2 separate regions of the Homo sapiens genome follow, and region 1 is linked to region 2. The links come from fine-mapping of genetic effects on gene expression. A gene starts in region 2. The other region holds a variant in brackets. All regions are shown on one strand. Distances are from middle to middle.

What was found. PIP is the estimated chance that this variant, and not a neighbour inherited with it, causes the effect.
Region 1: its variant is the best candidate, but not a certain one, in a credible set for the expression of FLVCR1-DT in aorta (GTEx, PIP 0.61).

The regions. Positions count from the first base shown.
Region 1 is chr1:212,687,431-212,690,333 of GRCh38, reverse strand. The region is part of intron 2 of BATF3 (basic leucine zipper ATF-like transcription factor 3); the gene reads left to right. Among named protein-coding and RNA genes, the nearest start is that of BATF3, 11 kb to the left of the region's middle. The variant C/T (reference allele first, on the strand shown) is at 1,196.
Region 2 is chr1:212,857,004-212,859,906 of GRCh38, reverse strand. It overlaps FLVCR1-DT (FLVCR1 divergent transcript), which reads left to right and starts at 1,769. Exons shown (of 2, transcript NR_027286.1): 1 at 1,769-2,141. It overlaps FLVCR1 (FLVCR choline and heme transporter 1), which reads right to left and starts at 1,632. Exons shown (of 10, transcript NM_014053.4): 1 at 717-1,632. The coding sequence starts at 1,454. RefSeq lists silencers at 1,182-1,391, 1,472-1,531.

The DNA.
Region 1 (2,903 bases), 170 kb after region 2:
AGTGGACCTCAGGGAAGCCTCAGGCCACAGGGCTGCGCACGGCTTCCAGAGACAAAACTGGGAAGCTCAGAGCGTCTTGCTGCGGAATTCAGTATATGTAGAAAGGCAGCTTGGAATATTCTACCAAAGGAAGAGGGCTTCTTGTCCTTTGGAATCTACTTAAAATGTTAGCACATTGGAACTATTCAAATGTACTCTCCATTTTACTTGAAAGTCAAGGGCATTTCCTGCTGCAGGGTGGAGTGTGTGTGTGTGAGTGTGTATGTGAATGTGAATGTGGGGAGTCTGCATGTGAGTCTGAGTTTTTGTGAGTGTGTGTGACTGTGTGAGGTGTATGTATGTGTGTATGACTGTATGTGTGTGACTGTGAGAGTGTTTGTGTGACTGTGTGTTGATTGTGTATGTGTGTGAGAGTGTCTGTGGCTGGGTATGAGAGTGTGTTTGCAGATGTGTGTGTGACTGTGTGTATCTGTGTGTGTGTCTGTGGTTGTGTATGAGTGTGTGTGTGTGAGAGTGTGTGTGTCGGGCTGTGTATGAGAGTGTGTGAGTGTGTTTGCGGACGTGTGTGAGTGTGTGTATATGTGTATGTGTGTAAGAGTGTGTGAATGTGTATGAGAGTGTGTGAGTGTGTGTTTGCAGACGTGTGTGTGTGCTGCAGCTTTTCTCATCCCTCTGCTGCCTGCATGATTCCCTTGACGCCCTGGCTTCCATCCCATCCTCCCATCCAGACTCTCCCCTTGCCCACGGAGAGCTTATGGCTGGATTTGTAGACAGAATTCTCACTCCAGAACTAGAGCTTGTCAGAGGTCAAAGGAGGGCATGAAGGCTTGGGAGTGGGAGGCAGGGAGGAGGATAGAGGCAGAATGGGGCCAGTGTACTGGTGAAGCCACATGGCCCCAGAACAGCTTGCTGCCCTGGAGAGTGCTCCAGACCACCCTGGGAACCTGCCTGGGGAATGGCTCAGATAGACCCTACAGGCAGCCCCGCCAGACCCCTTGGTTCTTAAAGGGAGGAAGATGCTGAGAGTCCCTTCTGAAAGGAAAGGATGGGGTTAAAGAAGAAACAGAGGATGAGGGCTGAGGAATCACTGAGCATGTAGGTGCTGGTGCTGTGGCGCATCAGGCAGGGGGTAGAGGAGAGGAGTAGCAGAAGTTCCTAGGTCCTTTACATTTCTGATCTTTGGGGGGAGACATTA[C/T]TTCATATGAGTGAAATTGAATATGATACAAAATAGAATAGAACACATAATAAAAGATGTGGTTCCTGTAGGTGCTGTGGTCAGGGAAGCCTTCCTGGAGGTGGTGGGCTTGAGCTGGACCCATGCAGAAAAGGAGGAAGGCAGTCCAGTTGAGGATAACTGCAAGAGCAAAGGGGCAGGGTTGAGAATTTGCATGTGTCTTTGGGGGCTATAAGATCACATTTCTTTAGTGATACTCCCTTAAAATTACTAGTCAGAGAGAAAGTGTGATGAGTAACGCAATTGGGCCCTGAGCTTGGGAAATGCATGGTGTGCATGGTACAACAAAGCCTTACTATAAACTAGAAATGAACGAAAACATTTCAGCAAGATTTAAATGAGATTGCCAGCCTAGAGAGGGTCTCTATTGGCATGCCGTAGAGCTCTGCCATTGGCTATTTTTTGTAGAACTTATTAATGACTTGGATGAAGAAAAGGAAGACCTGTGTGTTAAGTTAGTGGATGGCTTAAAGCTGTGTGCTGTCACCATTCATGAGACGATGCAATTGAGATTCCAAAAGATTTTGCAATTTTGCTGGTCTGGAAGATGTCCAAATAAGGAATGAAATTCAGTGGAGATGGATGTAAAATCCTACCCTTAAGCCCCATAGCATCCATCATCATCCAAGGACGGACGGAGAAGCAGCACATGCAGATAAAGCTTGCATTTCTCTGCAGGCTCAGAGAGAATCCTCAGCGGCTTGGGCCCAGCACAGGAGAGGTCACTGCCACACATTTGCCCTTGGCATGGTCTCCAGAACCATGCATTGCATCCTGGGAGCAACATTTTCTGAGATATTCTGGTAAATTGGAGTGTGTGTTGGTGAGGGTCCCCAGAATGGCAAAGAAGAGCCTGATGCAAGGAACTCAGAGGACCTGAGATGCTGTATCCTAACATTTCAAGAACTGCGATATTGAAAAAAGCATTGGATCTACTAGATGTGGTTCTATTAAATGGAACCAAACCCAACAGGTACATTTGAAAGTGAGAGTGTTTGGATCAGTACAAAGAAGAGCTTTTTCTTTTTTTTTTTCTTTTCTCTCTTTCTCTTTCTCTCTCCTTCCTTCCTTCCTTCCTTCCTTCCTTCCTTCCTTCCTTCCTTTCTTTCTTTCTTTCTTTCTTTCTTTCTTTTTTTTTCTTTCTCTCTTTCTTCTTCCTCTTTTTGTTTTTTTGAGTTGGGATCTTTCTCTGTTACCCAGGCTGGAGTGCAGTGCTGTAATCATGGCTTATTGCAGCCTCGAAATCCTGGGCTCAAGCAATCCTCCTGGCAGAGCCTCTTGAGTACCTGAGACTATAGGTGTGCATCACCACACCTGGCTAGTTAAAACAAATTTTTTTAGAGATGGGGTCCCACTGTGTTGCCCAGGCTGGTCTCAAACTCCTGGCCTTAAGTGATCCTCCCACCTTGACCTCCCAAAGTGCTGAGATTACAGGCATGAGTCACCATGCCCAACAAAGAGGATTTGTCTAGTAGAGCAGCCCAGAAATGACAGTCTGTCCATTGAGGGCAGGAGTGCCCAGAACAAGTTGGATATGGATGGTTTCTACATTGTGTGGATTGGGCTAAGGGACCTCTCTGATACCCTGCAGTTCTACGCCTCTGTAAACCCTGATGGAGAGGAAACTGAACAGGTGAGTGCTGGAGCAAAGCCAAGGCAAGGGATGTTT
Region 2 (2,903 bases):
TGACCTCTCAAAATGGAAACAATCTTCCCAGAACCCAATACCTTCCTTTCACAAATACACTGGTGACAAAAATAATACCCCAAGTCTTGTTCGTTACTGCATTGACAAATTTTCCATGTTAGGCATACACAAGCCAATACAGTTAATTATTATTATTATTATTATGGTTACAGTTTATTATTATTATTTGAGACAGAGTCTCACTCTGTCACCCAAGCTGGAGTGCAAAGGTGCAATCTCCGCTCACTGCAACCTCCACCTCCCGGGTTCAAGAGATTCTCCTGCCTCAGCCTCCTGAGTTGCTGGGACTACAGATACCCGCAAGCAGGCCTGGCTAATTTCTGTATTTTTAACAGAGACGGGGTTTCCCCATGTTGCCCAGGCTGGTCTGGAACTCCTGACTTGAAGTGATCCACCCACCTCGGCCTCCCAAAGTGCTGGGATTACAGGTGTGTGCCACCGCGCCCGGCCCAGTTAATTATTTTATAGGTAATTTTCAAAGCAAGATGACAAGGTCGTTTGGAAAATTTTGTCCTTACAAAGAAATTTATAGCCCACTTCAATCCAAGACGGCCTCCTATTCAACGGCTTCATCTCCTCTTTTATAGACAAATACCTCCTGGGGCAGTTCATCCATACAGGCCATAGTTCTCACGGCCTATGACTTTTTCCGGTCTTTTAAGGATCTGACTTTCACCTACCACTCCAGTACTTACCTGATTGCCCAGCACGGCGGTGGCACAAGCTGTGGACACCTCTTTGGGCCCAAACCACACTGAGGCGATGCGGGAGGGCAAGCCCAGGATGAACACCTGGGCCACCGAGCACAAGCACTGGCCCAACATGGTGACCCAGAAGAGATGCTGCTGCACACTGCCGCACTTGATCCAGGCACCCAGGCAGTTGAGGCCGGAGCCCAGCAGGGCGGTGAGCCGCAGGCCTCTGGTGTCCAGCAGCCAGGTGGCCGGGAAGATGAGGGGCACGTAGGCCAGCATGTACACCATGGACAGCCAGTCGATGTGCAGCAAGGTGACACCGTAGAAGCCCTCGAAGACGTTGCTAATGATGCTGTACTGGATCCACTGAAAGGCGTTGACCAGCGAGTACAGGCTGAAGATCAGGAGCACCACGAAGCGCCGCGGGGAGAGCGCCGTAAGGGGCAGCGGGCTGCTCTCGGCCCCCGGGGTCTCAGCTCCCGCGCCCGCAGGCAGCAGCCGGGCCTGGGTCTCCTCTTCTGGGGCCAGTGGAGTCTGAGGCCCGCCCAGAACTCCCGAGGCGGCAGCGAGGCTGTCCCGGGGGGCCCCATTCACCGGGAAGGTGCCCGCTTTGGGCCCGTTCTGCAGCTCCACGCTCTCCTTCCCAACGGGCGCGCCCCTCGGCAACGGGAGGTATCCTTTCGCGAGCGGGTGTCCGGGCGCCACCGCCGCCCCCTCCTCATCGTCTGGCCGCGCCATATCCCAGGCTCCCCGGCGCCACCTCGCTCCCCCGCCCCACTCCCCGACTCCGCTCTCCCGGCCCACAGCCCGAGGTCCTCCTGGGGCCCCACCTCCAACCCCTCGGCCCACCGCTCCTTCCCCGGTGGCGCGCGCCGCGAACCGCAATCCGCGCTACCGCGTGAACAGATGAAGGTCTCCTCCCCCGCGCCGCGCGGCAGTCACCCCTTGTCTGGTCCCGCCCCTAGAGTCGCGCGTCCTGCATGACTACGGCCCTCCGGCCAATCAGCGTGCGCCTTTGTCCGGCGCGAGAGCCAGTCGGGGAGCTACCGGGCGAGAACTTCGGGAGGCGGGGGAGGAAAGCGGCCGGCGAGCGCTGGCTGACATTTTCCTGCCCGGAAGGATGCATGGCCCGGGGTCTCCTGCACCTGAGGGTGGGCGGGAGGCGGCCCCGCGGGTTGTGTTGCTGGAAAAAGGGGTCTCGATCCAGACCCCAAGAGAGGGTTCTTGGGTCTACTTCAGGGAAGAATTGGAGGCGAGTCACAGAGCGCAGTGAAGGAAGCAAGTTTATTGGAATCTACTCCGTTAGAGAGTGCAAGTCCTCAGACTGCAGGAGGAGGAACTCCCGTCCTTCGGTAGTGTCACTACTTAGAGGCAGCTGTGAGGAGCTGTGATTAATCGTGGAATGTGCTGATGTGCCCACTAAAGGTAGGGGCTGTTGGTGCACTAATGACCATTAATCCTTCAACCTAAGCCTGCGCATTGACGTTATCTCTGAGTAGAGGGCTGGGCCGGGCTCGGTGGCCACGTCTGTAATCCCAGCACTGTGGGAGGCCGGACAGGAGTCTCCCTTGAGCCCAGGAGTTCGAGACCAGCCTGGGCAACATACTGAGATGCCATCTATTTAAAAAAAAAAAAAAAAAAAAAAAAGCCAGTAGCCAGGCGTGGTGGTGCATGCCTGTAGTCCCAGCTACTCAGGAGGCTGAGGCAGGAGAACTACTTGAACCTGGGAGGCGGAGGTTGCAGTGAGCTGAGATCGCACCACACTGCCCTCCAGCCTAGCCTGGGCGACAAAGTGAGACCTTGTCTAAAAAAAAAAAAAAAACTCAGGACATCTGGACAATTCCGCAGACTTGGTGGGAGATGTCCTGTATGGCCATAAATATTGTGTAATTATAATTGTTGGTCAGCTTAGAATGCGGCTATTTTCAGACCTTTAGCATTAACCTTATAGGTGCCTTGTGAGTGCCTAGTTACTCACTTTAACATGCAGTCGCTCTAGCCATGTTTTATTAAACCAGATGCCTGGTAAGCAGTGGCTCCTCTAACAAGTGGGCAGCTTGGAACTGGGAACGAGAGAGCCACCGAAACAGAATGAGGGAGACAAAGAAGTGGGCATCACCCTTAACTCCACAAGGGCTTCCCAAGGGCGCTGTACCGTACGCAGGCCCAGGACGAACTTTATTTCTC